2 separate regions of the Homo sapiens genome follow, and region 2 is linked to region 1. Evidence: fine-mapped QTL for protein levels in blood plasma. Region 1 holds a variant in brackets. A gene starts in the other region. All regions are shown on their reverse strands.

Region 1 (16,088 bases):
GAACCTTTAATGTTCATGGAAAAGGATATAAGAAGTCATAAGTTGGATTGCTCTTATTAACCCCGGGGTTGTGTTTCTAGACCAAGGACACATATTATTTCTGGCCCAAAAGTCTGTTCAGGTTGCCGGGAAAGTTGGACCTCCATCAGGAGGGGTGATTTATTTGGGGATATGGAGGCGACCCTATAGCTTTACCTGAATAAACCCAAATTTGAGATTTGACTATGGAAGGAGTCCTTCCCTGACTCTTTTGCTGGTTTTGAGCTTACCAAATTGAGCTCACCAAATTTTGGTTTGTATTTGCATCTTATGGTTCATTCTGACCCAAGCTAACCTGCATCCTCAAAGGATGTGTGGCCAATAACTTCCCTAAGGTACAGCATACAGGAAAAGGACTAGGACGTGGGCAGCTACATGGGCTCACCAACTGACTCTCCAACCCTGGTCATATCGCCTGGCCAAGGAACTTGAGTTTATCTCTCTATAAATTCTAGGGCTTTGGTTATTTCTCACTTCACAGGATCACAAGCATATAGACTCATTGTCTTCCGCTGACCAGCAATAGTACAATAGTATGGGGCATTTTTTGGGGCCCCATAGAATGAAGACACTACCATTCAGCTGATGATGCTGCCCCACATATTGTGCATCCTAGGCATGCCCATCCCCCACCAGTAACCTCAGGCAGCAGTCCTTATACTGAGCTTCTCTCTGGTGCCCATGGCAACCCCAGCTTTTAATGCTGAAATGTTACCACAGGGTTGCTTTTTGGTTTGGAGTTTTTTTTTTTTTTTTTTTTTTCTGGAATCTTTTTGAAATGAACTGTTGATGTTGCAGTTTTTGCACATCCTTCAACTTGTGCAGAATTCCGTCGGAACTTATGAGCCTGAATCCAATCAGGTTCACTAAGACGCACTATCTAAAAGCTGACTTATGCAAAAAATAAAAATAAAAATAAAATAAAATAAAAGCCAAAATGCATTCTTACTGATTAAACTTGCCTTTTAACGAAAGCGCTTGGTATTTCAGAATTAATTTTCCTCCTTTCATATTCTTTCTTAATTACAATAGAGAACTATTTTTGGGAACAAACTTTTGCAAATCTTTACTTCAAATTTATGTGAATATACACTGTGTGTGCACATGCAAATACCTAAATGAATATAAAAGTACATAGATATTCTGTATCAAAGTTCTGTATACCTTTCTTTTCAATTTACTAATTCTCTAGGCTAGCATATAAAATGGATGGACATTAGTTAAGGACAGAATCTTAAAAACCTACTGTGTACCAATATATTTTTTAAATTACTTATTACTCCTTTGTACATTCTTTAAAATCAATTTTTGATTTTTAAAAGAAGACACAAACATCAGTTTCTGAGAAGAAATTTGCTAGGGTCCTGGCTGCATTTAATAATATTTCCTGGTTTAACATCTTTCCTCCCAGAGTGCACACTTACACTGATTTAAGGTCCTCACACTTTCACTGAAATTGTTTATCCATTTTTGCTTTTCTGATACAATTATTATTGTTTTAGCTTTTTAAAATCTCTTTTAAAATTGTATTCATTTAATGTGTCTGTCTTTAAGATATTAAAAATCCTTCATTTGTATGTCACCTGTTAAGGGAACGTATTCTATGAACTGCAATAGAATGCCAAGTTAATTAGAAGAGCCAGAACTCTATTCTGGAAGCACCCACCTCTGAAATGCAGCCGCTTCTTGGATAAAAAGCAACAGCTGTGTGAAAGCATAGTGCTGCTAACACTGCACACCTGCTTAAGGCAGGAAGTAAATGGAAAGGTTTTCTCTACCTGAATTTGCAAGGGGCAATTTTTAAAGCTGGAATGGGATAACCCCACATGGGAATTTGATCCAACCACTCAGGAGTAAATCTTGCCTTATAACACATGATGGATAAGGACATCCTTATCAGAGAGAGGCATGTCCTTGGGGTGAAGAGAAAGGCTGCCGCCTATGGCATTATTGAGGGTAGCAGCCACAGGGTGATTTCATTCTCTTCTTGTGTCCACCCAAGATTCAAGTTGAACCTACCAGGAATTTAGGCAAGACTTGGTGGCCTGCAGCAGTTGTAGGGAGGCAGTTACATACAGTCACTCGCTACATATGAAGAGGAGCTTTCTGGCTGCTTTTCGGAAGGACTAGCCCAGGCAGGAGGAAGTTTAACCTGACTGGTTTGCTAAGCAAGACCAGGTAGTTACTAAAAGAGATGGTCTTGGCCAGGTGCAGTGGCTCATGCCTGTAAACCCAGCACTTTGGGAGGCTGAGGTGGGAGGATCTCTTGGGGCCAGGAGGTCGAGACCAGCCTGGCCAACATGGTGAAACCCTGTCTCTACTAAAAATACAAAAATTAGCTGGGCCTGGTGGCTCATGCCTGTAATCCCAGCTACTCGGGAGGCTGAGGCAGGAGAATCACTTGAACCCAGGAGAAGGTTGCAGTGAGCCGAGATCACACCATTGTACTCCAGCCTGGGCAATAGAGTGAGACTCCATCTAAAATTAAAAAAAAAAATGGTATTTTCCTGTGAAGGGTTCCATTAATTATCCATGTGGGCTGGAATTGTTTCTCTTGAACAGTTACTGATACAGATATTCAAACAGTTAATGAGACTCCATCTGTATAGGAGTTTCCAAGTGGGAGTGCAGGCCGAATTGATTAGTTTTAGATGTGAGGCTTTTTTTTAAGCAAGAAGAAAACCCAGAGTCCAAACAAACAGCATTTGTAAAGTTCGGAAAAGACGTTGCTACCAGAAATGGGGAGAGAAAAAAAGAATACTTTTGAGCAAACCCTACTTTCTTTAAAATGAAAAACAATGGTAAAGTTTCCATATGTAATTAAAATCTCATTCTGAAGTTACCACGCCACTGGCTCCGAAAGAACTCAATTAACAGGAAACGGCAAAGAATATGGTATTTTCTTTGAGACGCTTTAAGAAATGCTCCTAAGTAGACAATGGGTTGGATAGTAGCTGTTACCTACAAAAGGATAAGCAATTATGGTTCATTCCAGGGAGAAAAGGGGAGAGGATAAGGCTAAGAAAAGTAGGTTTATAATGTGGAAATTAGATTTTCAAGTGTGCATATTTATCATCAGATCTATATTGAAATCCAGGCTGTACAAAGTCTAACTTTACTTAAGAAAATTACCTTATTAAAAAAAAAAAAACTGCACCCTCATTTAAAATATTTCATCTGAGAAAGGAAAGGTGATCACTCCACGCTCACCTCAGGTCTCCTTTCCCAGATAGACTTCCTTTTCTTACAGTTGAAAACTAAATACACAGTCCTGGGGACCAGCTCAGTTTCCAGAAGTTGGTTCTCCCGATGTCCCTGACACTAGCAGGTTTAATTCAAAGTATAGAAGGCGACCTCCGTAGGTGTGTGGTCATTGTGGAAAGAACGGAAGAGACCATTTAGGTCACTCTGCATGTTAGCGAAGTTGAAAACCAAGCCAGTAAGCAGTGAGTGATTTGATGAAGCAGTGCTTCAGGTGTCTGCCTCTTTGAGTTCGCTGAAAAGTTGGATCTTACATATTTAGCACCTGAAACAACCGAAGGCTTACGGAGGACACTGACAGACTGGGGCGAGGAGGGTCTCTGCCTCCCCTGAAGACCTGGACCACCCTCCACACCTGGGCAAGTGCTGCAGCGGTGCCTGCTATTAGAGTTAAGCAGCAAGGGCAGCGACACCTGGGATGTAAAAAAAAAATAATTATAAATAAATAAACACTAGCAAACTACCTGTTAGTTTCTACCTGTGAGGACCTAAGAAGACTAAACAAACAGCTCCTTAATTTCTGGACTTTCCCTTGGATCACAGAAGGAGACCCTGGGAATTTTCTGATTCCTTCTTTCCTTTTTTTCTTTTCTTTTTTTTTTCGGTCTTAATGGAGATCTTGAACTGCAGAGCCGCCGTGTCAGAACTCAGATGGTTAACATTCACTTCTTGCTGTTTTATTGCATATTACTGTGCGCGCCTGAGCAGCGGGAGCAGATTCGGGCAATTACAATCAAGTCAGGGCACACGCCGCGGCGGAGCAACACGAGCATGATGAGGATACTGATGAGGCACTTATCGAAAACCCCACATCATCCACACTCATCAGCCACAACATGTCACCCCAAATGAGGCATCAGCTGCCTTCAAAAGGCTCATTGCACAGTGTTTACCGCTTCCCTCGGACCCACTTTTGATTTTACGGTCAGAACTGGGTTCAAACAGCAGCTGTCTGGCAAGGGCAGGTCTGCGGCTCCTCGCAGCTTCCGCGGGAGTCGGGAGTCCTGGGGCTTTGTCTGGGGAGCTTTGGGGAGCAGGGGCTGGCAGGGCGAGGGGACGCGGAAGGCAGAGAAGTGTCCAGTTCCGTTTCTCTCAAAGAGGAATCCCTTTCCCAGAAGGGGCCCTTGATTAATTTCAAGCAGTAGCACACAGTGGTGGCATAACGGGGGGAGTAGGAGGGAAGCCAAATAAGGAGGCTTTCACAGGTCTCCTTAAAATGGTAGCAGGGTGGGTGGGACCTCTCACGCAGACAGAAGTCCTAGAAAGATCAGTCTCTTTGGAAAAGACAGATCCAACCAGTGGAGCCGTTCAAGTGGTCACAATTTTTAATTCTTTCCATCAACAACTCCTTCTTGGGTGGTTGGGGGAGGCATTCGTTAGCAATCTATAGGAGGACTTCCCCCCATCTAGTTTTTCTGCTGTAGAAGGAAGATATATTCCTAGTAATACTCCTTAAAACTATTCTTTGTTTTTACTCCTTGAAACTCTTCCTTGTTGCTTTGGGTTAATGCAACTTGCAGCTAAACACTTGTTGGGGGAATCTAATTGTTTACACTTAAAGAATGTGAAAACCATTGCCATCTATGTTTCAGTCTGTGTCTTTCCTGGTAGGGGGAGTGTGTTAGGCTGATACCAACTTTGCACATATTTGTAATGACTGGATTAATCAATGCCATTTATTTTAAAGCTAAATGTTCATAATTTTGTAAAATTCACCCTACAGTAAAACATTTTCCAGTTAGATCTAGACCAATTGATCCAATACCAATAAAAGCCACATAGGCTTTCAATTTTTCACTCATTTGAGACCTTTTCAGCCCCCTCCCCTCAAGCCCCAGTGAATGCTATCTTAGCCATCCAAAGTAAGAATGAAGAGCAGCATGTGGCAGGGAAGAAAGGGGAACCTCCTGCCCCCAGTCATATGATCTGTCCTAGAGACAAGGCCACATGCAGAGCATTGTTCAGCAAGGGGGCAAGGGAAAGTTAGGCAGGTTCAGAGAGACGATGTGGACATAGGGTAGACCAACAGGCAGAGCCACACACCCTAACCAAGGTCCAGAATCCTGGGACTTAGAAACAACCTCAGTGTACCTGTAATAAATCTGGAGTATACCTTTGGGTATAGAGAGTGTCATGAACTCCAGTCTTTTTCAGTTTCACCATATCCATTGCTACTTTCTTTTCGCTGTTTTTTTCTACATAATTCTACAGCAGTTGGCATTTGGCTTTTAATAGGATTTTAACATCTTTACAAAAAATGGGGAACCACAGAAAATAAGTAGATCTCTAGGTTTGAAGAGTTTTAGTAGTTTTGAGAAACTAATTTACTTTTTCTGGTAAGTCATTTTATCCACTTTTAGATGTTAACAAACTAGAGCTGCCAGGAATTTCAGGAAAGGTGTTCCTTTCTGTCTATTCCATCTCAGGGGTTCTGCTCACCTTCTTTCCTCCCAGATCCCTTCCTCTTCTAAACTTTTTAACTCTCCTTTCATGTCCCTGAGCTGATAATATTCTAGTTTGGCCCATTTTGCCCAAACTCTTCTCTAGCTTCTGGGTTTTTTTTTCCTAAGTTTAAGCCCACATGTTTGTACTACATGCTGGGATTCAAGGGAAAATCCCACGACATGGTCTAGGATGGTGACTATAAACCTCAGAGCATCACTTGACTTAATAGCTCCAAAAGAGTCAAGACAAAAGGAGGCAAGTTTGTGCCTACATTTCCTTTGTCATCCTGGATCCCTCAGGGCCTCCAGGCTTCATGCCCCAATAACCTGTGTTTATTGCATGATTTCAGGTGAATACTACAGGGAATAGGAAATGTGAATGCAGAAAAGAAAATGGGTGGGTACTACGGGATAGGAGAGAGTTTGGGAAGGTTAGATTAAAAAGTAACTCAAGGCTAAGATTCATATTGGTCCTTCTAAGTTTTGCCTATGACTCATTTTCACTAAGTGATATCTCATAATCTTTAACTTAGTATTTCCTTTAGAGCTCTCCTAGTAGGTGACCTCTATTGATGATATAGAAAGAAAATGAGTATTTAATTAGAGTTCAACAATTGATTACGGAGAGGATTCATTAAACCATCAGATGTATTTATATGGACTTAGCAACCTCTATCAACAATGCCTGCCAAGATCATTGGTTCTAGGGGTTGCAAATATTAGTCATAATTCCTTAGGAAATTTTAATATTGGTGGTGTGTGTGTTTAAAATTTTTACATATATTGGATACTCTTCAATATCTTGCTACTGATAGAATTCAATGCTGGGAGAAGCAGAGGGAAGATTGCAAATGAAAATGCAGCACGATAAATTCTAGACAGTTATCCAAACCAAATTAAAAGGAATTATTCATGTAGAAGATCAGAGGAATTCACTGGTCAGATGGCTATTGAGGCCCCTAGTTCTCAACCTCTGGTTTAGGAATCTGGAGAAAAACAATCTTGCAGGATCCTTCCTGGGAGCTTCAGAGAAGATCTAGGCCAGAAAGAGACAGTTTTCATGTGTGTATGTGCATGCAGCATGGAGTGTGTGTGTGTGTGTGTGTGTGTGTGTGTGTGTGTGTGTGTATCTCTTTGTGGGGTCATCATCTAACGCTCTTTGTGATGCACATTCTAAATTAGGCAAAAGGGATGCATCTTTCAAATGCAGATCATGTTTGCATTAGAAGAGCAATGAGAACACTTGTCAGTTTCAGAACATTTATGTGCTAGAAGTACTGTTAGCAGAAGAGCAGTTTAGATAAATTCAAGACTTTTTTTGCTGATCACAAACATTAAGCTTCACACCTGAAGCCCTCAACCCCCTGCTGTGCTCTAATCCTAGCACCATTCACCCTTAGAGACTCAGAGTGCTGTGCCTCAGCTCTCAAACCTTTGATTGCCCTTAGTTTGAATGCCACCACCTGCAAAAATGCCTTTTTATTCCCTTTGAGCCTCTTGAGAAGGAAGTAAAAATGATAATTCATGACAAACATTAATTAATTGTTTACAAGATGATCTTTTCTTTTTCCAACTTCTGTTCAGCAGACATGTTGAACTGCAAGATTCCACTCGCGACGCCAGAATTCGTCAAGAGGCCTGCATTGTTGTTTCGCACTGAGGCATAGGACCGGCTACAGGCCATTGTTTCTCCAGCTCAAGTGGGCCTGTCTGGTTCGTGTTGGAAGAATGAGGGTGACATGC[G/A]TGAGTTCCCGAGTATAAAAGAACTACTGGTTCTAGGAAGGAACAGGAGGTTAGCCACTAATGCAGAGTAAATAAACATTTTTCACCACCTCTTGCTCCATGTGATTTTTAAAGGTCAAGAGCTGCCATTACAGTATTTTAAAAGCTTCAAATTACATTTAAAGAATGTATCACTAAACTCACAGAAACCTTATCAGAATTTAGGAACCTACTGTGATTGTTTGGTCCTTGAGTTTATCATCCCACTGGAAGGTGGATTGTAAAAGGAAGGCAGATGCCCCGTTGTTTCTGATATCCTGCAATTTGCTCAAAGTGAATGCTGTTCAAGTTCTTCCAAATTTCCCTTCAAAATATGGAAAGTGTTAAAGACACTTCAATTTCAAAATCTTATACAATCTACATTGCAGGTCAAACATTTAGGGCAGGGAAGAATAAGCCTCTGGGGCCTTTCACGACAAACACGTTCAAAATGCAAAGAGATGTTCATGTTCCCTTGAAACTTCCAAATGTATGTGTGTGAAAGAAAAAGAAGTAAAAGGCAGAGGGAGATTTCTTTTTTAAATTAAAGAATAAAAAGCTTACTTCAAGGAAGTGTAGAGTAACAGCAGAAAGACTTCCTCAGCAACTGAGGTTTTCAGATTTCAAATTAGGAGCCCTTAGATCACGGCTGCTAGGCTAAAAATCAATTCTATATTTTCTGAGTTAATACTAAGGATTGCACTTAACAGACATGGAGACTAATAAGGTATGCAGAAGGAGTAAAAGCAGCGCACACACACAAATTCAGGCCTTAGTTTTGGCCATGATCCAGCACAATGATGTTTCAACCAGATTTGAAAAAAAAATCAATAACATCTGTGGTATAATGGTTAATTAAAGCAGCTCTTCAGCAGAGCTCAGGAGGAGAGGCTCAGCCTGAAATTCAGACAGCTGAAGCTTGATTATCAGGAAAGAATGCTTTTTTAGCTATGAGTGGATAGGCCAAAAGCTGCAATGTGCCGAAATGGGGAGAAAAATTGCTTTTATTTTAACTTTCTTTAAGTAATCAATACATGCTTTTCACCTGCATTAGGACACTGCTCAGCTCCAAAGGCCTGTTACTCCACTTCAGCATAAATTCTAGCTACTCTCTTTTAAAGCTTCGGTTTAAAAAGGAGTCCCCATCCCCTGTAAAGCAAAAGAAAAGAATATGCAGGTTTGGGTGCATGTTCTTGACACCAGTTAAAGCTCAGGCTATAGGATGGTCCCAAGGGTTTAATCCATAAGCTATGTGCAAAGCTGCCCCAATCTTGGAGTACACAGAGGTCATAGCCAGAGTACTAAGGCTTCACAATAGAACTAAAAATTCTCGAGGGAACTGTGAAGGGCAAGGCCAAATTTCCCACTGCTTTTCGTCTTCCTATTGTTTTGAGTACTGTGCTAGGGATGTTTTCTTTACCTTTTTGAGGGCAAAGCTCAATGAATCAACAATGATGCCTCTTGCAAGGTTAGTAGGTGACTTTTCCAAAGAAAAAAATAATTGTTAACACCTCGTCTATTTTCTTAACACTTTGCTTCGGTTTCTATTTTGGATATTGTTCCTGGACAGTGGAATCTGTGTGTTCACGTCATCATTGTCAAATTTCAAGATGCATTTGTAAAATGATATTGCCCCCTCTGGATTACACTAGTTCTCCTATAGCATATGGTTAGTTAATTGTTCATTCATTTTTTCATTCAGCAAGTTTTTCTTCAGTGCCAAGCATGTGCCTATCACTATGTTGGGTGGTTTCTGCCCTAGGAAGCTCATACATAGCCTGTTTGAGGGCTGCGTGCTTGTGAACAATTAATTGCAAACACAGTGGGAAAATAGCCCAAATACAAGTGTCTAAAATGGCTAAAAATGTTTAAGCACCCCCCCACCCCGAGTCAACTGCACTTGGGAAGAGACAGAGGGAAGGTTAGGGAGCCTCAACAGGGAATATTCTCGGAGCAAAATCATGGAAGATAAGGAAGTGTCTCCAGGAAGACAAGGAGAAAAAGGCAGAGAAGGCATTCAGAATTTACATATACTTATGTGAATTATAAGTATCAATTCAGAAGAATATATATGAAAGAAGTGATATATATATATCTTATAAAATCTTCTAAATTAATCTTTGGAAATTGATACATGATAGATATATGTATTTTCAAGGTACGAATGACATTTTGACACATTCATATGATATGTAAAGATCAAATCAGGGTAACTGGAATATCCATTACCTTAAACATTTATTTTTCTCCTAGGAACATTCAAATTATTCTCTATTAGACTGGTGCAAAAGTAGTCACACCATTTTGCCATTACATTAAAAGTAATGTAATGTGATTTTAATATCACATTATAACTAATGGCAAAGTGGTGTGATTACTTTTGCACCAACGTAATAGCTATTTTGAAATGTACACCAGATCACTGTAAACTAGAGTCACCCTACTGATCTATCAAACACTAAGTCTAACTGTATATTTGTACCCATTAATCAATGTCTCTTCATACCTTTTCTCTCTGCCCTTCCCAGCCTTTGATAACCACCAGTCTACTCTATCTTCATGAACTCCATCTATTTGCTTTCACACGAGTGAGAACGTGCTATCTTTGTCTTTCTGTGCTTAGCTTACTCACTTCACATAATGAACTCCAGTTCCATCCACATTGCTGCAAATATATTTTACATCATCTATCCTTATTTTAAGAACCATCAGGATCACGGATTCCAACACCTTCCTTTATAGCTATCACAATCAAGCAGTTCTGTCCTTCCTCTGACCACACTCTCACTGGAGGTTAAAATTCATTGGTATCTTCTCTTCTCTAAAACACAGCAACTTTGCGTTTTACTCAGGGATCCATTTTTTCATCCTATGACTTTTCTTTTAACCTATTTCTGGGTCCTTTCCAGATTCTCTTTCTTTCTCCATAATTTCAAAATGTGAAGTAGATTTAAAGGAGCCAAGAAGCTGGTCTGCCCATCAGTATGCTATGCCCTAAAGTATACTTTAGAAGAACTAATAATAATGCCCAACACTTTTCATCTTAAAAACGTTGGTCTTTGGGTAAAATCCTGCTCCCCCACCTACTATGTGATCATGGGCAAGTAATATGATCACTCTGGGCTTCAGTTTCCCATCTAAAAAATGGGCATAACAACAATAGCTACCTCATAAGGTTATAATGTGGATTCAGTGAGTTAATATTTATAAGTGTTTAGAACAGTGCCCGGCACAGAAGAATTGCTGTCAGTGATTGTTGAATAAATCATAGTTACCAGCACCTATTTTGCGCATGATTTCCTGAGTGAGGCTTTGTGTCCCCACCCAAATCTCATCTTGACTTGTAATCCCCATAATCCTCATAATTCCCACATGTCAAGGGAGAGACCAGGTGGAGGTAATTGAATTCTGGGGGACCATTTCCCCCAGGCTGTTCTCATGATGGTGAGTGAGTTCTCACGAGATCTGATGGTTTTATAAGGGGCTTTCCACCCCTTTTCTGGGCATTTCTCCTTCCTGCTGCCTTGTGAAAAAGGTGCCTTGCTTCCTCTTCACCTTCTGCCATGACTGTAAGTTTCCTGAGGCCTCCCTAGCTATGCTGAATTGTGAGTCAATTAAACCTCTTTCCTTTATAAATTACTCAACCCTTCCCCGCTTTGATATAGATCAATTCTCAACTATCATTTTGAGTTTGATTTTTGTCCTTTAATGTATTAGCAACTCATATGTAGAGCCAATTATTTACTCACAATTTTTTATTTTGTTTTCTGTCTTAAGATACTTTTAAAATCATGTTGCCAGATTTTATTCCTTAGCAAAAGAGTAATGTCGCCTTTACATTTCTGTGTGTAATTTCTATGATTTTATATCTTGAGGACTGATTTTTCATTCTTGTGTTTGTTTTCCTGATTTGGTCTTTATCTTCTTCCTGGTAACTGGTGTAATTTCAACTGTTGCAGCCATTTATTTAGCATCCTGTCTTTAATTCTTTTTAAAATAAGGAAGGTTTAAATAATTAAATTTAAAGTGCAAATAATTTGAGCAACTACCAATGTAGGCACCATACTGTCTGTTGGGAATACACAGATGTGATGTATATTGGTGAGGCTTTGTTTCAGCCACTATTGACAGAAACTTAACTGTGCGGCTTAAATACACTCAGGTTTATTCTTTTGTGTAAATTAAGACTGAAGTCAGCTCAGGGGATGATTCCAAAGAATTATCAAAAAACCCCAGAGTCCTTTCTCTCCTATTTTGGTTTTCACCCTCAAGGCTATCTCACAGTCCAAGACAGTTGAAACATCAGCTGCCACCTGTATCGCAGGCAGCAGGATGAAAGATTAAAGGAGTTTTTCTCAGAACTCTCAGCAATTCTGCTCATATCCTATTTGTCAGAACTCAGTCACATACCTAGCTGCAAGAAAGGCTGGGAGACATAGACTTTATTCTGGTGCCACTTATCTAACCAAAAGTCAGGCTTGTGGGGCTAAGCAGGAATGAGAGAATGAATTTCAGTGTCCAAATAGCAGTGTCTGCCACAAAATGGTTTATGGCAATGAGGAGCTCAGTGTTTGGTGGTAATGACAGACACTCAGATAATTACAGTCTAATGAAATAAGTGCTAATTAGTTTTACATAAAGTTATTGGTGTCTTTTTATTTCTATTCATTGATATGATTTACTCTCCTTAAAAGTTTTCTTCTTCCCACTTCCTGCTTCCATCCCCACTCCCACAGGCTGAACAGGCACAGTGAAATGTGGTTTTATCAGATTTCCCAAAGGACAGTCTCCATTGATTTGCAGGAACTTATGTAAGTGTGTGTCTCACCTACAAGTCACAAAGCCACTGAAGAGTAGGGAGTAGGCCTTGGTTATTTTTATAAAGAGATCATGCTTGGCTTGGGGGCTGCTCCATGGTCACTGATAAGATGATTTCCTGCACTTGAAAAAGTGTTTTTTTAAAAGACTATTTGGTTCCTCCAGGCTGCTTTTCCACTGAAGAAGAATGTCCACCTCCAATATTTGTACTGATGTAGAATGACTTTCCTGAAGTTCTGGTCTCATTCTGTTTACCAAATAGCATACAACTTTAGGCATATCCTTTAATCTCTCTGGCCTGCTTTCTCCCAAATATTCTTATCTTGTTATTTTAAGCATGGGAAAAAAATGAAAGTAACATTATGAAAATATTTCATGTTTCTCTAAAGGCCTTACAAATCATAATTGGTTAGAATTTTTTTCCATTTGGCAAGGAAAAAACTGTATACATATACACAATGTAGATTTTTTAATAGGAATAACACCCTAGTGAAGATCAAATGAATAGGTTAAAAATGCTTTGAAAATGATATTAAGATATTGGTGTAATGTTAATTTTTTGTCTGTTTATATAAACATAGAAGGCTATATTATGTTTGTTAAATTAATAAGTTTCTGACTTACAAAGAACATAAAGGAGGTAGTTTCTGTTCTTGCAGTTAGGGAGGAAATATATACATACGAAACTACTGGGAAAAATTTCATTGCCATATGTAACGATAAGCATGATAAAGGGGTTTATATTGTGCAGACAGGCAGTTCATAAATGTTGAAGCATTGGTTGAAAAATCTAGCAACACATATGAAGAATAATTTATTCAATAATAGTTATTGGTAGGAAATAATGGGAAAGCAATAAGGATTATAAAGCTAGAATGAATTAAATAATACAGCAAAGGTGATACTGACACAATGTAAAATCTTGCTGCTTGAATATTCAAAACCTGCTGGTCAGGTAAACTCTATCACTAAATTTAGTACACTTCTAAGTGAAACTCATTTAATTTTTATTTTCTGAATTAATTTCACTTGAGAGAATACTAAAATAGACTCATGGCCATTTAGCTAGCAACATCATCAGCTAAGTGATGCCTATTAGAGAATTTCAACCTTTTATCAGTGTTTTGTTTCAGAGGCTTAACCATTATACACTAAATACATCATTAGAAGAACGAATAGCAATGCCTAGCACTTTTCATCTCAAAAAGCCTTTTATGCACATTAACAAATTAATTCAAATAACTCTTAGCAAGGCAAACTGTATACAAAATAATTCCCATTTTACAGATAGGGAAATAAGGTTAAATTACTTAAGGGAATATTCACACAAGAGAAAGGCAGGGGTTGAGATGGTTATATCCACAGTGAAATCAAAGTTCTTGGATTCCCAAAATGTGTTCTGGATACTCTGTCTTTTACTTCTTAAATGCTTTTTTACTCTTAGACTAGATAATAGAATCAAACTCAATAGTAACAGGTCTGACCTGGAACAAGTACTAAGAACTTGCTGTGCTGTGCCTAGCTCATTGCTAGTTATCTTTGGGCATCACAAATATATCCTGACTTGTGGTCACCTGTCTTCTTTATCATTTATTAATAGTCTCTTGTTCTCAATTTCATCATATATAAAATTCACAGAATAGCTTCATACTTATTAACCATATATACTTACCTCACATTCTTATATGAAATAAAGGATGTGAATGTTTGAAAATCAAGGAACTCCGTTTCAAGTGTCTTCTGCATGGTACCCTCTGATGTATCCACTCCCAACTCCCCTAAAGACAGAGAAAGAAAACCTCACACCGACTAAAACTAACAACTCTGCCAGAATGGTGGAAGAATTTTTCCTAACTATAAGCCTAATGAAGCTGGAATGAGAAAAATAATAATCAGCCTATGATACGTCTCAACAGAATAGGCCCTGCTCACCTGTGGCCAATATTTCCGACTGGCTTATACAATAGTGATACCCAAGCCCCCTCTCCTTTGCCCCAGAAAGGCTTGCTTTCCAGACATGCCAGTATAGCCCCCTCCTCCTTCCTGTTGCCTTGATTGTGAAAGTGAGAGTGCAGCCGTTTTGAGACCATGTGGGGACACGCATGTGGATGAAAATCCAACACTCTAAGGACAGCAGAATAAAAAGATGGAAAGTGATAACAGTTGAATCTCTAGGCCAATCCCGAAATTGCGTACTTCCAGACGTGATAGGTAAATTAATATTTCTACAGACTATTCAACTGCTAAGACTTTCTGTTACTCATAGCTGAAAGCACTCCTAATGGAAATACCATGCAGAAGATAGTGGGAAGATACGGGGTTTCACCATGACTATCTCCTCTCTGGCTTGGGTTGAAGACCTAGCTGGCAGCTTTCTACTTCTGTGCAGATGCTGCATTTTAAAGTAAATCATTTTTATTTGTGATTATAAAAGCATCAGTGTACATTGTAGAAAATATGGAAAGTCAGAAATACAATGGAAAGATGAAATAACTCATAATCTCACCAGCCAGAGATAATAATGATTAATATTGTACTACATATTTTTTGTATGCATAAATATACATATATTCTTTTAAAATTTTAAAACAAACTTGAGATAATGCTGTGTTGGTTTGCAGAAATCTTTCTACTTTTCAATATTTTTCATATTTTCTATGCATTTAGATATCTACGACATTATCTTAATGGCTAAATGGTATTTTACTATGGAAACAGCATTTATTTAATCAGTATCCTATTAGTCATACAGACTATTTCTAAATTTTCACTGTCACCAACCCCAAACTAAACAATTCGCATATGTCCAAGATTATTTTCTTAAGGTGTGTTCTTAAAAGTAGAATTACTGTGGTCAAAAGAAGCATTTACACTTCAAAGGCTTACAACACCATTTCTAAATGGTATTTCAAAACCATGGTTATAATTTGTACTCCTGGTAACAGTGTAATAGGGATCTATTTCCCTGAAGTTGGTATACCTTCAGAGGAAACCAAAATATTGTCCCACATTAACTCCATATTTCCTTAACTGTTCACATCCTGAAATTGCCTTTCCAAGAAATCAATCAGAAACAAAGTGGGAAGGTGGGAGAAGATTAGCAGTGGTGCACAGGGACTTGGCAAGTGCACTCCCTGCTGATAAACAGTCAAGGCTAAGGCAGAGTGGGCTGAGGCAGGTACAGCAACAGCACTTGCTGCAGAGTGTAGATATTTGTGTGTTTCAGAGTTTTGGAGTGTCAGCAAATCAGGCTGCGGAGTGATAGAGGATCCCATCTAAGTGTATTACAGCCAAAATAGGGCCACTGCTTTGAATGAAAAATGATATCAGAAATACTCTCCCCACCTTCCATTTCTCCCCACATAAAAAGATAGCATTTTCTACAGATAATTAAAAAAATGGCCTCAGATTTCTGTTCTTCAAAGTACATATCAAAATTATATATAGAAAATGAGAGGGGACAAGGTTAGTGTCTACATCGGTTGTACTTGGTGCAGAACCAAGTTGTCCTTCATATGTGAAGCTATTAGAATCTTAGGTCTAAAGTATATTGTGCTGCTCCAGTAGGGATGCATCCAATATATATGAACATGCGATACATATTATAATAGATGCCTAGAATCATCTTTATCTAATATAAAGTCCATCAATGATCTCTATTACCAAAGATGTTTTTAAACAACAATAAAGTCTATTAAGGAAGCCAGCCATGTACGGAACTTAAGCTAAAGCAGGAGACATTAATGCAGTTCACAGATCTGGAAA
Region 2 (15,266 bases), not on the chromosome of region 1:
CTCTGCTAATTTCCTTCATTAATTTTTACTCTCCAAATCCCTTACTATGAAAAGAACTAATTGCCCATCCTATGAATAATCCTGGAACTTCACTAAAGCAGTATATTTTTCTAGAAAGCAAAATGTACTATACAGCAGCTGTGTGTGTGTTGAACACTATCAAAGGAGGTTTAGCTATTAAATAACTAAAAAGAACTTATAATACAGAGTACATTACCCCAGCAGGTACTCAAAAATGAATTTGCTCTAACATTCCCGGAAGTACATTTTCATAAAAGATGGCCATTAGTACAGTAATTGAGAGGATTTAATACACACATCATTAAATGGACAACAATATTTAAATCAAAATGAAAACAGAAGAAAGCCATGAATATCAAATATCCTTCATTAGGGAACTAATCAGTTGTTTCTCTTTCTTTAAGTCAATGAATTTTTTCCTTATCCTTATGTAGGTAGTTCTCTCACCTCCATCTACTACTAAACAATTTGGAGCAGTAATTTAAGATATTACAGCCTGTTGAAGCAAATTATCTTTCAGCATTTGCCACTTTCTAAAAAATGATAAAATGGTGAAAGTGAAAAAAAATAGCTTAAGAACATATCATTTCACAGAGCCTTCTCACTATAGACACCTACCTTACTTTGCATTGGTGAGCAGATGCTGTGGTGACCCAAACTAAAAGCTCTTGGTTCATTTTATACCCTTCAGGATAATCCCTCTGATCTTCTTGTTTATACAATTGCATTTGATTTACTGCTTTCTTATCTGAAAAGCATCTATTGAAAATTCATACTGAATTCCAAATAAAATGTATTTAGACAAACAAGCTCACAATATCTTTACCTGGAAACTGACATTATTAAAGCATGCATTTTCCTCTCTTCTGTTTCAAAATAAAATTACCTTTTAAATATATTCTTTATTAATATTTATTTATTAATATTAATAAAAGATAGATACAGAATGGGAAAAACCAAATTCAAAAAACACTCTAACATCATCTAAATAAGTCTTGGGAATAAAAATTTATTTGGGGCTTGAGGGCTTCAAGTTTTACCTAAATGTTCATGTAAAGATATATAAAATTATTCCTCATCTAAAAATTTTGTTTAGAACAAAATGTGTAGTTCAAAATATTTTTGGGGGATTTTAAGATATTAAGTAAAATTTACACATGTGAAAGAATGACTCTGAGGAACATGGCCACATCTGACAGGATGTCAAGCTGACCTGAGATAAAATTTTGGCCCTGCCATTTACTTGCCATATGACATTGGCATGCTTGACCTCTTCAGTTTCTATTAAAAGGTAATATCACTTCTCTAATGATTTGTGGTGTGAGCATTTTTTCATATGCTTATTGGCCATGTATATATCTTCTTTTGAAAAGTGTCTGTTTATGTCTTTTGCCCACTTTTTAACGGGGTTCTTCAGTTTTTGCTTATAAATTGTTTAAGCTCCTTATAGATTCTGGATATTAGACCTTTGTCAGATGCATAGTTTGCAAATATTTTCTCCCATTCTGTAGGTTGTGTGTTTATTATGTTGATAGTTTCTTTTCCTGTTACATCAGGTAACAAAAGTACACGATCCTAGAGAGATGGGAAACAAACAGGGAGAAACTGCCTGGAGAAAGTTTCTGGGCCATAATGCAGAAGCCCTTTAGTTAAAGGTCCCATTTGTCAACTTTTGTTCTTGTTGAAACTCCATTTGTCGTCTTCGTCATGAAATCTCTGCCCGGTCCTACATCTGGAATGATATTTCCTAGGTTATCCTCGAGGGTTTTTACAGTTTTAGGTTTTACATGTAAGTCTTTAATCCACGTTGAGTTGATTTTTCTATATGGTGTAGGGAAGGGATCCAGTTTCAGTCTTCTGCATATGGCTAGCCAGTTATCTCAGCACCATTTATTGTACAGGGAATCTTTTCCCCATTGCTTGTTTTTGTCAGTTTAATTGAAAAAAGAATGATTGTCAAATCAGGCAGCCCTCAGAATCAGAAGAGATTCACAGAGCTCTGCTCCTCAATGTGGGCAGACAGCATTTATGGACAGAAAGTAGAAATGAGATATCGAAACAGCTTGATTTCATTATACATCAGCACTTGCCTTACTTGGACAAAGTCTGATCAGCTGGCTGCCTGTAATTGACTGAAGCTCAGCTGCTGTGATGAGCTGAAATTCAGCTGTCTGTTACAAAAGTATACTCCTAAGTTAGGCTTTCAGGTAGTGTACATACTAAGTTAGGTTGCAGTTCATTATGTAGGAACTCACAAAACAGAGGTATCCTCAGGCCACATTTAGTTTAACAGATATATACCTAGAAATGGCCATGCCAGGGTCCAAGGTCTTGGGAATGTGAGCTACTATGTAGTAAGATAATTTTGAAAACAGGGAAACTGGAAATGAGTGTGCCAACCTAATTTCAGACAAGATGCTAACACAGGAATATGATAAATGGAAGAATGTTGGATGTGTGTTTCTAATGGAATTAGTGCCTCCTTTGTATAAAGCATTGATTCAGGAACTCATTTTCTAGCGGATTTATATACCTATCCCTGGGAGATATATGTATGTATGTGTGTGTGTACATATGTAATGGACAACTGATAGACACTTGGCCTGTTACTAAAAGAACTATAATAAATACCATGCATTTGGGTAGTGATTTTCTTGCTAAAGAGGCCTTAGTGTATATGATCTCATACTGTTAAAAGAATCCAGGCATGTTGAATTTGTGCTTCTGATCCAGGTTTACTTTCTCACCTAAAATAATTATAAAACAGTACAAAATATATAAAATAATGTCTTTATACATATTGGACATCAGGTAACAAAAGTACATGATCCGAGAGAGATGGGAAACAAACAGGGAGAGACTGCCTGGAGAAAGTTTCTGTGCCATAGTGCATGAAAAGTTACCAAGGCAGAGGCCAGAAGCATCACCAAATTGAAGAGATAGACCTGGGAGTCCATGGATCCCCAAGGCAGCTAGAGTTCACAAGAAAGACATTATCAAAAAAGAAAACCACAAACTAATAACCCTCATGAAATGAACATAGATGCAAAAATTCTTCACAAAATTTAACAAAACAAAATAAACAATATGTAAAAAGAATAATACATCATGGTCGAAGTGGAATTTATTTCAGGAATGCGAGTTTAGTTTGCATTCAATTAAGAAAATTCACCCTACTAACGGGCTAAAAACTAAAAGCCTTATGATGATCCCAATGGAAACACACACACACACACAACCACATACACAAAAAGCATTTTACAAAATCCAACATAGATTCCTGAAAAAATTTTCGGCAAACTTGGAATAGAAGAAAACCTCCTAACTTAATAAAAGGCATCATGGAAAATTTATGATTAATATCATGCTTAATATTGAAAGACAGAGTACGTTTACTCTAAGATCAGGAAAAAGGCAAAAACGTCTGCTTTTGCATCTTCTATTAAACACTGTGCTGTAAGTGCAATGTTAACGCAATAAGCCAAAGGAAAAAAGACATTCAGATGGGAAAGGAAGGAGTAAAATTTTATTCACATACGACATGACCATCTATGTTGAAAATCTTACTGAATCGCTGATTTCAAGATGGTAAACCTATGGTAATTAAGAAAGTGGTGTTAAGACAGATCATTGGAACAAAATATGGTCCAGTAATAAACCTGTACACATGTGGTCAAATTATTTTCAAGAAAGGTGAAAACAAAATTGAGTAGAAAATAAATAGTATTTTCAACAAATGGTGCTGGAACAATTCGTTATCCATATATAAAAATAAATACTTTTTAAAAATAAATAAATAACTTCAATACATATCTTGCATTATATACAAATATTAACATGAAATATAAAAACTAAAATTCTAACATTTCTAGAAGAAAGCATGGAATAAAACTTTTGTTAGGGCCGGGCGAGGTGGCTCACGCCTGTAATCCCAGCACTTTGGGAGGCCGAGGCGGGCGGATCACGAGGTCAGGAGATCGAGACCATCCCGGCTAAAACGGTGAAACCCCGTCTCTACTAAAAATACAAAAAATTAGCTGGGCGTAGTGGCGGGCGCCTGTAGTCTCAGCTACTTGGGAGGCTGAGGCAGGAGAATGGCGTGAACCCGGGAGGCGGAGCTTGCAGTGAGCTGAGATCCCGCCACTGCACTCCAGCCTGGGCGACAGAGCGAGACTCCGTCCCAAAAAAAAAAAAAAAAACTTTTGTTAGGCAAAACTTGAATTAGGCAAAACTTTCTTAGATATAACACCAACAGCATGATCCATTTTCAAAAAATGATAAATTGGACTCCATCAGAATTAAGAACTTCTCTCTTCGAAAGGCATTGTTAAAAGAACGACATACCACAAACTGAAAGAAAAGAAACTTGCAAATTATATATAAGATAAAGAACTTGTATACAGAATATATGAAGAACCTGCTATACTCAATTATAAGAAAAAAATTATCCAATTTTTTAAATAAGCAAATGTTTGAATAGACATTTCACAAAATTATGTAGATGGGAAGTAAACAGATGAAAAATTTTCATCATTAGTCTCAGAGATAAGAAATTAAGACCTCAATGACAGCACTACACACGTCTTGGGCTGCCTAAAATTTAAAAATTGGAAATACCAAGGGTTAGCAAGGATGTGGAGCAATCGAAATTTGTATACAATGTTTGATGGAAACATAAAATGGTACAAGTTCGTCAGTCCATAAGTCTCTCAAAAAGTTAAACATACACCTACAATATGACCCAATCATTCCACTCCTCAGTATTTATCTAAGAGAAATAATAAGATATATCCATACATGAACTTGTACATAAACATTTATAGCATCTTTATTTTTAATAGCCCCAAACTGGAAACAACCTGAATGTCCATCCACAGGTGATAAACAAATATGTCATATATATGCAGTAGAATATGTGTCAGCAGTAAATAGGAATAAACTACTGACACAGCAGTGACATGAACATCAATAATTATGTTATAATCTTAATGTTATTAAGACAGACCAAAACAGAGTACATGCCATATAATTCAGTTTATATAAAATACCAGAAAATACAAATTAGTGTAAGACAGCAGACTAATGATTGCCTGGGGATGAGGAAAGGCAAGGAAGGGGAAGAAAGAGGGATTTCCAAGGGGCAGAGGAAATATTTAGGAGGTGAAAAATGTGTTCATTATCTTGATTGTGATGATGGTTTTACAGGATATACATATGTTAAAACCTACCAAAATATATGCAGGGTTAGGGGTTGAATTATGTACCCCCAAAATTCAAATGTTGAAGTTCTAACCTGTAGTATATCAGAATGTGAACTTATTTGGAAATAAGTTCATTACAAATGAAATTAATTAATATGAAATAATACTGGAGTAAAGTAGGCCACTAGCCAATATGATTGGATATATCCCCTTCCAAAAAGAGGACACTTGGACACAGACACATGAACAAGGAGAATGCCATGTGAAGAATGAAATTATGTTGCTTCAAACCAAGGACTACCAGAAGCTGCAATAGAGGCCTGGAATACATCCTAGCTCAGCAGCTTCAGAGGGAACATGGTCCTGCAGACACTTTGATCTTGGACTTCTGGCCTCTAAAACTGTAAGAAAATAAATCTCTGTTGTTTTAAACCACTCAGTTTATGGTACTTTGTTATGGCAGTCCCAGGAAACTAATATATGCAATTTATTGTATGTCAATTATACCTCAATAAAACTGATAAAAAATATGGTAGGTGGAAATCATCTGTGCCTACTTGTCTAACTTCATGTCATACCCACCTCTCTCCACCTTTTATTTATTATGTCCCTTAGAACATTCCAAACTTGTTCTTGGAACAGTGCTTTTACATTTGCTATTTGTTCATTATGGAGCAACCTTTCAACAAGTCTTTGAATGGCTTTCTCCTTATCATCTCAGCTTAAAAATTACTTCTTTAGAAAACCCTTCCTTGACCACCCAGTCTAATGCAGCCTACTGCCACTGTCACTTTTTATCCTGTTATCTCATATATTCTTCATTGCACTTAGCATTTTCTGATACTATATTATTTGTTTATATACTTATTCTCTGTCTCCCCCTTTCCAACCAGACTGTAAGCAATTTAAATGGAAGCTTTGTTTGTCTTGCTCATCACCATATCTTCAGAATCCAAACCAGCCTCTGCTATATATTAGGTACTCAGTAAATATTGATTACATAAATAAATGGAAACATAGATCCTATTCTGACATTTTGCATCCATGGAGAGGTTATTTAATGCTCTGATGTTCTATAGATAGTTATAGGCAAAGTCAGGCTAAAATCCAAGTTTCTTGACATCGTTTTTGTTGCATTAAAATTTTAACTCATTTTCAAAGAAAAACAAACACTCGTACTCTTTACTTAGCTAAACAGAGAAGTGGCATTAAAATATGAATCAGATTTACTGACATTATCCTTTACCCCAAAGATTGGGTACTTTTCTAGCTCCTACTATTCTCTATATCCATAAAATTCTAAAATCCTGGGCAATATAGACACTTTTAAAATAATCAGTTTAGCCATCTTAAGCCTGAGTTATCAGTAACAGTCATATTAAAATGGCCTGCAACATGAAACAAAACCTGTTTGTTTACTTAATTCCTTTCCATGCTTTTTTTCTTAATACAGATAATTGGTAGCAAACAGAGTTCACCCTATCTGCATATTGAGCATTTTATTATTTTAAAGCTCTCAAGTGAGAAGACAAAATTGATTTAATATGTATAAAAATTATGTCAATTTGCTTTTCTCTTTTGGTAACAGATTAAAGCCCCTTGTATACCAGATTTACATGAATGTATGCAAGTTCTTTTCTATTTCAAAACATTTTTTGAAATTAAGGTCATCTATAAATGTTAATAGAAATTGCTAACATCTTCTGTCATAAAATTTGTAGTGTTATAAAGTCAGCTTGGTATCCAATTTTCCTTACCTGTCTGTCAAAACTAGTTTCTCTATCCCTTAGTATAATATCTTTCTTTCTACTTATGTTACTTTATATAACCTCTTGGTAATTAGATATTATTTATCTGGCTGAATAATGTGAGCAGTATTAATTGTATTCACAATAACAGGTATAACCACTTCTCAGCAACTAATGAACAATATGCTATTAATCTCATCCAAAAATTTTAAACTTTTCTTATCTTTTTTTAGCACACCTTTTATTTCTAAAGAAGTTTGCAGTATGATTATATGCAAAAATTAATCAAAAATTTAGTTAGCAAATTAATCAGTGGTAGTCACAGAATAACAAATCCATAATGTAGTTAACTTGTCTCACTACATATGTATGAGTTTTCCTAGTGTTTAGAATTATCTTCTATTGGGAACAATGGCTATTCATGAACTCATTAATTCATTTGTTCAACAAATCTATGGGATTTCCACCTCATTCCAGACACTGCCCTCAAGAAACTCCTTCTTACCAGTCATCTTCTTCACACAGCTATAAAATAACAGTCCAGACCTCTCCTTGAGCCCCAGACCCATGTATCCAACCCCTACAAGACATCTCCAATTACACGTTCCACAGGAACTTCAAACTCAGTGAGAACCCTGAATCCCAGGGACTGAGTTACGTTCTCCTTCTTATACCAGCATATCGCCCTCTGAGCTTACTCCCAAAAGAAGGCAGGAGAAAGGCACTAAGCCAGCTATTCTAGCCCAAAATATGAACCAGGTTTGGTGAACCTCCCCATAGGTAAAGTCAGTAAAGGAATAGGGAGAGGACCAAAATGTGTTTAGGTAAACACATTTTGATTTCAAGGAAGTCAAGAGTAGGGAAAAGCTCTTCCCTGCCTGGCACAAGAGGAGGCCTCCCAGTCTCTACTCCAGCACTACTAACCATTGTTTTCATTGGTCAGTGCCCAGACTATTCAGCTTCTCCCAAAAGCCCCACATATTTCTGCTTTCACCCATCAAGGATTCACTGGTATAAGAATTTCTCTTCTACTAAAAACAGTTAGAAAACAGGGCAAAATATATGAACCAATTATTCATAAACTTTGGATAATAGGCACCACAAGGCTGATACTGAAAGAAAAGAAACAAATAAATTAAGCCCTACGATTGTCCTAGAAACCTGAAGGCAGTTTCTAGGCTACAGCACAGAGAGGGGGAGCCAAAAAGAGACTATACTCTTAAGGAATTGTGAAGAAACGTATAGAAGTTCAGGGAGTCTGAAATGCCTAGAATTTTTAGGACAGAGAAATGAAGAGGAGGGAGCTGCCTAGAAAGAAAATCTGGAGATCTGAAAGGGGTTTTCATTGAGTCTTCAACTGATGACCAATTTGTATATGATGGGGTTGAAACTAGGAAGCCAAGGAAAGATCACTGAAAATCAGGAGGCTGAACAATTCCTCGAGCTTACTTACGTCTAAAAATAGTTTGTGCTTCCATAAGCCAAAGTGGAGAAGTATTATAATACATAATTAGGTAGAGTCCTCAGAGAAGTCATGCTTTAAAAGTGAGGATAAATTAACTCTAGAGTTAAGGCTGCTCTGAACCTTCCTGAACAAAGATAAAAAGGAACTTTCAAAAGGATTGAGTGAACCAAGTAACATGAATGTCTGCCAGAACAAAGTTCAGTATTCCTTTAAAAAAATACAACAAAATATAACTCACTTATTAAAATGTAAAATTAACAATGTTGAGCATCCAATAAGAAATTACTAGGCATGCAAAGAAATGAAAAATATGACCCCTACCAGAAGGAAAATCAATAAATAGAAACAGGCTCAAAATGGCAGAAATAATGAAATTCACAGACAAGAACCTTAATAGAGCTTTTACAAACATTTTTAATACGTTTAAGAATCTAAATGAAAACATGAATATGAGGAAAAGAGAAATAAAAGGTATAATAAAAGACCCAAATGGAACTTCTAGAGATTAAAAATACAGTATCCAAAATGAAAAAAGAAAAGTCACTGAATGAACTGAAAAACAGAGTGGATTGTTCAGAAGAAAATATCAGTACACTTAAAGACACAGCAATAGAAACCATGGTAGCCAACCTCCAAGATGGTAACAATGGTAGCCAACCTCCAAGATGGTACCAATGATCCTCAATTCCTCGTACTTGTGTCATTGTGTAATACCCACCCATTGTGTAATACCAGGATTTGATATGTCTGTGTGATCTTCAGATTGGAGCAGAATTGAAGTTATGTGATTCCTAAAGCTGTCATAAAAGACATTCCACTCTCATCTTGCTCAGTTGAATCACTTGCTATGAGGGAAGTCAGCCATCAAGTCACAAAAACACTCAAATGACAGCAACTGTGGAGCAGTCCAAATGGCAAAGGACAGAGACCTCCTGCCAACAGTCAGAACCAACTTATCAACAATGTAACTGAGCCATCTTGGAAGTAGATCTTCAGCCCTTATTAAGTCTTCAAATGACTGCAATCCTAAGACAGTATCTTGACTGCAACTTGATGAGAGACACTCCAAGCCAGAACCATTAGCTAAGTCACACCCAAATTCATGATCCACAGAAATCATTTGATATATGTTTATCGTTGGTTTAACCTATTAATTTTTAGAATAATTTGTTGAGCAGCAACAAATACCTAATTCAGAGACTACTTAAAATGAATAGCACATGGAAAAAAAGTTTTTTAAAAAGCCTTAGCAGAATAATATCAAGCAGAATAAAATACATGTAATTGGAGTCCAGAATAAAAGGTGAGAATTAAAGTGGGGACCAAAAAAAATTGAAAATATGTGGCTAAAATATTTCCAAATTTGATGACTATAAAACCGCAAATCCTAGAAGTTCAATAAAACCCAAGTGAAATAAACATTTAAAAAACAATTAGGCTTTTCTCCCCCATGATGGAAGATTAGATGCTTTTCTAGCATCCTTCACCTACTTGGAAGAAGCAAAACAGTGTTTAGAGATTCACACTCAAAAAGGAACACAAGAATTCAACAGAAAAGCAAAGGACATTAGCCTTTTGTCAGATGAGTAGGTTGCAAAAATTTTCTCCCATTCTGTAGGTTGCCTGTTCACTCTGATGGTAGTTTCTTTTGCTGTGCAGAGGCTCTTGAGTTTAATTAGATCCCATTGTCAATTTTGGCTTTTGTTGCCATTGCTTTTGGTGTTTTAGACATGAAGTCCTTGCCCATGCCTATAAATCATGCTGCTATAAAGACACATGAACACATATGTTTATAGCAGCACTATTCACAATAACAAAGACTTGGAACCAACCTAAATGTTCAACAGTGATAAATGGGATTAAGAAAATGTGGCAGGAGGAGCCAAGATGGCTGAATAGGAACAGCTCCAGTCTACAGCTCCCAGCGTGAGCAACGCAGAAGATGGGTGATTTCTGCATTTCCATCTGAGGTACCCTGTTCATCTCACTAGGGAGTGGCAGACAGTGGGCGCAGGACAGTGGGTGCAGTGCACCATGTGCCAGCTGAAGCAGGGCAAGGCATTGCCTCACTCAGAAAGTGCAAGGGATCAGGGAGTTCCCTTTCCTAGTCAAGGAAAGGGGTGACAGACGGCACCTGGAAAATCGGGCCACTCCCACCCAAATACTGTGCTTTTCCAACCAGCTTAGGAAACAGCACACCAGGAGATTATATCCCACACATGGCTCGGAGGGTCCTACGCCCACGGAGTCTCGCTGATTGCTAGAACAGCAGTCTGAGATCAAACTGCAAGGTGGCAGCAAGGCTGGGGGAGGGGCGCACACCATTGCCCAGGCTCGCTTAGGTAAACAAAGCAGCTGGGGACCTCGAACTGGGTGGAGCCCACCACAGCTCAAGGAGGCCTGCCTGCCTCTGTAGGCTCCACCTCTGGAGGCAGGGCACAGACAAACAAAAAGACAGCAGTAACTTCTGCAGACTTAAATGTCCCTGTCTGACAGCTTTGAGGAGAGCAGTGGTTCTCCCAGCACGCAGCTGGAGATCTGAGAACAGGCAGACTGCCTCCTCAAGTGGGTCCCTGACCCCTGACCCCTGACCCCAGAGCAGCCTAACTGGGAGGGACCCCCCAGTAGGGGCAGACTGACAACTCACATGGCTGGGTACTCCTCTGAGACAAAACTTCCAGAGGAATGATCAGACTGCAGCATTCACGGATCACGAAAATCTGCGGTTCTGCAGACACCACTGCTGATACCCAGGCAAACAGTGTCTGGAGTGGACCTCTAGCAGACTCTAACAGACCTGCAGCTGAGGGTCCTGTCTGTTAGAAGGAAAACTAACAAACAGAAAGGACATCCACACCAAAAACCCATCTGTACATCACCATCATCAAAGACCAAAAGTAGATAAAACCACAAAGATGGGGAAAAAACAGAGCAGAAAAACTGGAAACTCTAAAAAGCAGAGCGCCTCTCCTCCTCCAAAGGAACACAGCTCATCACCAGCAATGGAACAAAGCTGGATGGAGAGTGACTTTGATGAGTTGAGAGAAGAAGGCTTCAGACGATCAAACTACTCTGAGCTACAGGAGGAAATTCAAACCAAAGGCAAAGAAGTTGAAAACTTTGAAAAAAAATTTGGACGAATGTATAACTGATGGAGCTGATGGAGCTGAAAGCCAAGGCTCGAGAACTATGTGAAGAATGCAGAAGCCTCAGGAGCTGATGCGATCCACGGGAAGAAAGGGTATCAGTGATGGAAGATGAAATGAATGAAATGAAGCGAGAAGGGAAGTTTAGAGAAAAAAGAATAAAAACAAATGAATGGAGCCTCCAAGAAATATGGGATTATGTGAAAAGACCAAATCTATGTCTGATTGGGATACCTGAAAGTGACGGGGAGAATGGAACCAAGTTGGAAAACACTCTGCAGGATATTATCTGGGAGAACTTCTCCAATCTTGCAAGGCAGGCCAACATTCAGATTCAGGAAATACAGAGAACGCCACAAAGATACTCTTTGAGAAGAGCAACTCCAAGACACATAATTGTCAGATTCACCAAAGTTGAAATGAAGGAAAAAATGTTAAGGGCAGCCAGAAAGAAAGGTCGGGTTACCCACAAAGGGAAGCCCATCAGACTAACAGCTGATGTGTCAGCAGAAACTCTACTAGCCAGAAGAGAGTGGGGGCCAATATTCAACATTCTTAAAGAAAAGAATTTTCAACCCAGAATTTCATATCCAGCCAAATTAAGCTGCATAAGTGAAGGAGAAATAAAATACTTTACAGACAAGCAAATGCTGAGAGATTTTGTCACCACCAGACCTGCCCTAAAAGAGCTCCTGAAGGAAGCACTAAACATGGAAAGGCACAACCGGTACCAGCCACTGCAAAATCATGCCAAAATGTAAAGACCATCGAGACTAGGAAGAAACTGCATCAACTAACGAGCAAAATAACCAACTAACATCATAATGACAGGATCAAATTCACACATAACAATATTAACTTTAAATGTAAATGGACTAAATGCTCCAATTAAAAGATACAGACTGGCAAATTGGATAAAGAGTCAAGACCCATCAGTGTGCTGTATTCAGGAAACCCATCTCACATGCAGAGACACACATAGGCTCAAAATAAAAGGATGGAAGAAGATCTACCAAGCAAATGGAAAACAAAAAAAGGCAGGGGTTGCAATCCTAGTCTCTGATAAAACAGACTTTAAAACAACAAAGATCAAAAGAGACAAAGAAGGCCATTACATAATGGTAAAGGTATCAATTCAACAAGGAGAGCTAACTATCCTAAATATATATGCACCCAATACAGGAGCACCAAGATTCATAAAGCAAGTCCTGAGTGACCTACAAAGAGACTTAGACTCCCACACATTAATAATGGGAGACTTTAACACCCCACTGTCAACATTACACAGATCAATGAGACAGAAAGTTAACAAGGATACCCAGGAATTGAACTCAGCTCTGCACCAAGCAGACCTAATAGACATCTACAGAACTCTCCACCCCAAATCAACAGAATATACATTCTTTTCAGCACCACACCACACCTATTCCAAAATTGACCACATAGTTGGAAGTAAAGCTCTCCTCAGCAAATGTAAAAGAAGAGAAATTATAACAAACTGTCTCTCAGACCACAGTGCAATCAAACTAGAACTCAGGATTAAGAAACTCACTCAAAACCACTCAACTACATGGAAACTGAACAGCCTGCTCCTGAATGACTACTGGGTACATAACAAAATGAAGGCAGGAGTAAAGATGTTCTTTGAAACCAGTGAGAACAAAGACACAACATACCAGAATCTCTGGGACACATTCAAAGCAGTGTGTAGAGGGAAAGTTATACCACTAAACGCCCACAAGAGAAAGCAGGAAAGATCCAAAATTGACACCCTAACATCACAATTAAAAGAACTAGAAAAGCAAGAGCAAACACATTCAAAAGCTAGCAGAAGGCAAGAAATAACTAAAATCAGAGCAGAACTGAAGGAAATAGAGACACAAAAAACCCTTCAAAAAATTAATGAATCCTGGAGTTGGTTTTTTGAAAGGATCAACAAAATTGATAGACCACTAGCAAGACTAATAAAGAAAAAAAGAGAGAAGAATCAAATAGACACAACAAAAAATGATAAAGGGGATATCACCACCGATCCCACAGAAATACAAACTACCATCAGAGAATACTACAAACACCTCTACGCAAATAAACTAGAAAATCTAGAAGAAATGGATAAATTCCTCGACACATACACTCTCCCAAGACTAAACCAGGAAGAAGTTGAATCTCTGAATAGACCAATAACAGGATCTGAAATTGTGGCAATAATCAATAGCTTACCAACAAAAAAGAGTCCAGGACCAGATGGATTCACAGCCGAATTCTACCAGAGGTACAAGGAGGAACTGGTACCATTCCTTCTGAAACTATTCCAATCAATAGAAAAAGAGGGAATCCTCCCTAACTCATTTTATGAGGCCAGCATCATCCTGATACCAAAGCCGGGCAGAGACACAACCAAAAAAGAGAGTTTTAGACTAATATCCTTGATGAACATGGATGCAAAAATCCTCAATAAAATACTGGCAAACCGAATCCAGCAGCACATCAAAAAGCTTATCCACCATGATCAGGTGGGCTTCATCCCTGGGATGCAAGGCTGGTTCAATATATGTGAATCAATAAATGTAATCCAGCATATAAACAGAACCAAAGAGAAAAACCACATGATTATCTCAATAGATGCAGAAAAGGCCTTTGACAACATTCAACAGCCCTTCATGCTAAAAACTCTCAATAAATTAGATATTGATGGGACGTATCTCAAAATAATAAGAGCTATCTATGACAAACCCACAGCCAATATCATACTGAATGGGCAAAAACTGGAAGCATTCCCTTTGAAAACTGGCACAAGACAGGGATGACCTCTCTCACCACTCCTATTCAACATAGTGTTGGAAGTTCTGGCCAGGGCAATTAGGCAGGAGAAGGAAATAAAGGGTATTCAATTAGGAAAAGAGGAAGTCAAATTGTCCCTGTCTGCAGATGACATGATTGTATATCTAGAGAACCCCATTGTCGCAGCCCAAAATCTCCTCAAGCTGATAAGCAACTTCAGCATAGTCTCAGGATACAAAATCAAAGTACAAAAATCACAAGCATTCTTATACACCAATAACAGACAAACAGAGAGCCAAATCATGAGTGAATTCCCATTCACAATTGCTTCAAAGAGAATAAAATACCTAGGAATCTAACTTACAAGGGATGTGAAGGACCTCTTCAAGGAGAACTACAAACCACTGCTCAATGAAATAAAAGAGGATACAAACAAATGGAAGAACATTCCATGCTCATGGGTAGGAAGAATCAATATCGTGAAAATGGCCAGACTGCCCAAGGTAAATTATAGATTCAATGCCATCCCCATCAAGCTACCAATGACTTTCTTCACAGAATTGGAAAAAACTACTTTAAAGTTCATATGGAACCAAAAAAGAGCCCGCATCGCCAAGTCAATCCTAAGCCAAAAGAACAAAGCCAGAGGCATCACACTACCTGACTTCAAACTATACTACAAGGCTACAATAACCAAAACAGCATGGTACTGGTACCAAAACAGAGATATAGACCAATGGAACAGAACAGAGCCCTCAGAAATAATACTGCATATCTACAACTATCTGATCTTTGACAAACCTGACAAAAACAAGAAATGGGGAAAGGATTCCCTATTTAATAAATGGTGCTGGGAAAACTGGCTAGCCATATGTAGAAAGCTGAAACTGGATCCCTTCCTTAT

Direction of the effects. Alleles are on the strand shown, and positions count from the first base shown. The strength of an association depends on the size of the effect and on how common the allele is.
As copies of A replace G in region 1, the plasma level of the protein whose gene starts at base 674 in region 2 goes down (weak association).

What was found. PIP is the posterior inclusion probability: the model's chance that the variant is causal. Protein levels are from antibody-based Olink assays in UK Biobank. Linkage for the fine-mapping came from a reference panel and not from the study's own genotypes, which makes the PIPs less certain.
Region 2: it holds the start of TSHB, and the variant in region 1 is fine-mapped to the plasma level of the TSHB protein (UK Biobank, PIP above 0.99).

Annotation. Positions count from the first base shown.
Region 1 is chr14:36,260,555-36,276,642 of GRCh38, reverse strand. It overlaps LOC124903302 (a long non-coding RNA gene), which reads left to right and starts at 3,361. Exons shown (of 2, transcript XR_007064116.1): 1 at 3,361-4,224; 2 at 7,332-7,575. It overlaps LOC107984003 (a long non-coding RNA gene), which reads right to left and starts at 3,360. Exons shown (of 3, transcript XR_429356.5): 1 at 3,250-3,360. RefSeq lists an enhancer at 3,683-4,182. The variant G/A (reference allele first, on the strand shown) is at 7,488.
Region 2 is chr1:115,015,234-115,030,499 of GRCh38, reverse strand. It overlaps TSHB (thyroid stimulating hormone subunit beta), which reads right to left and starts at 674. Exons shown (of 3, transcript NM_000549.5): 1 at 640-674.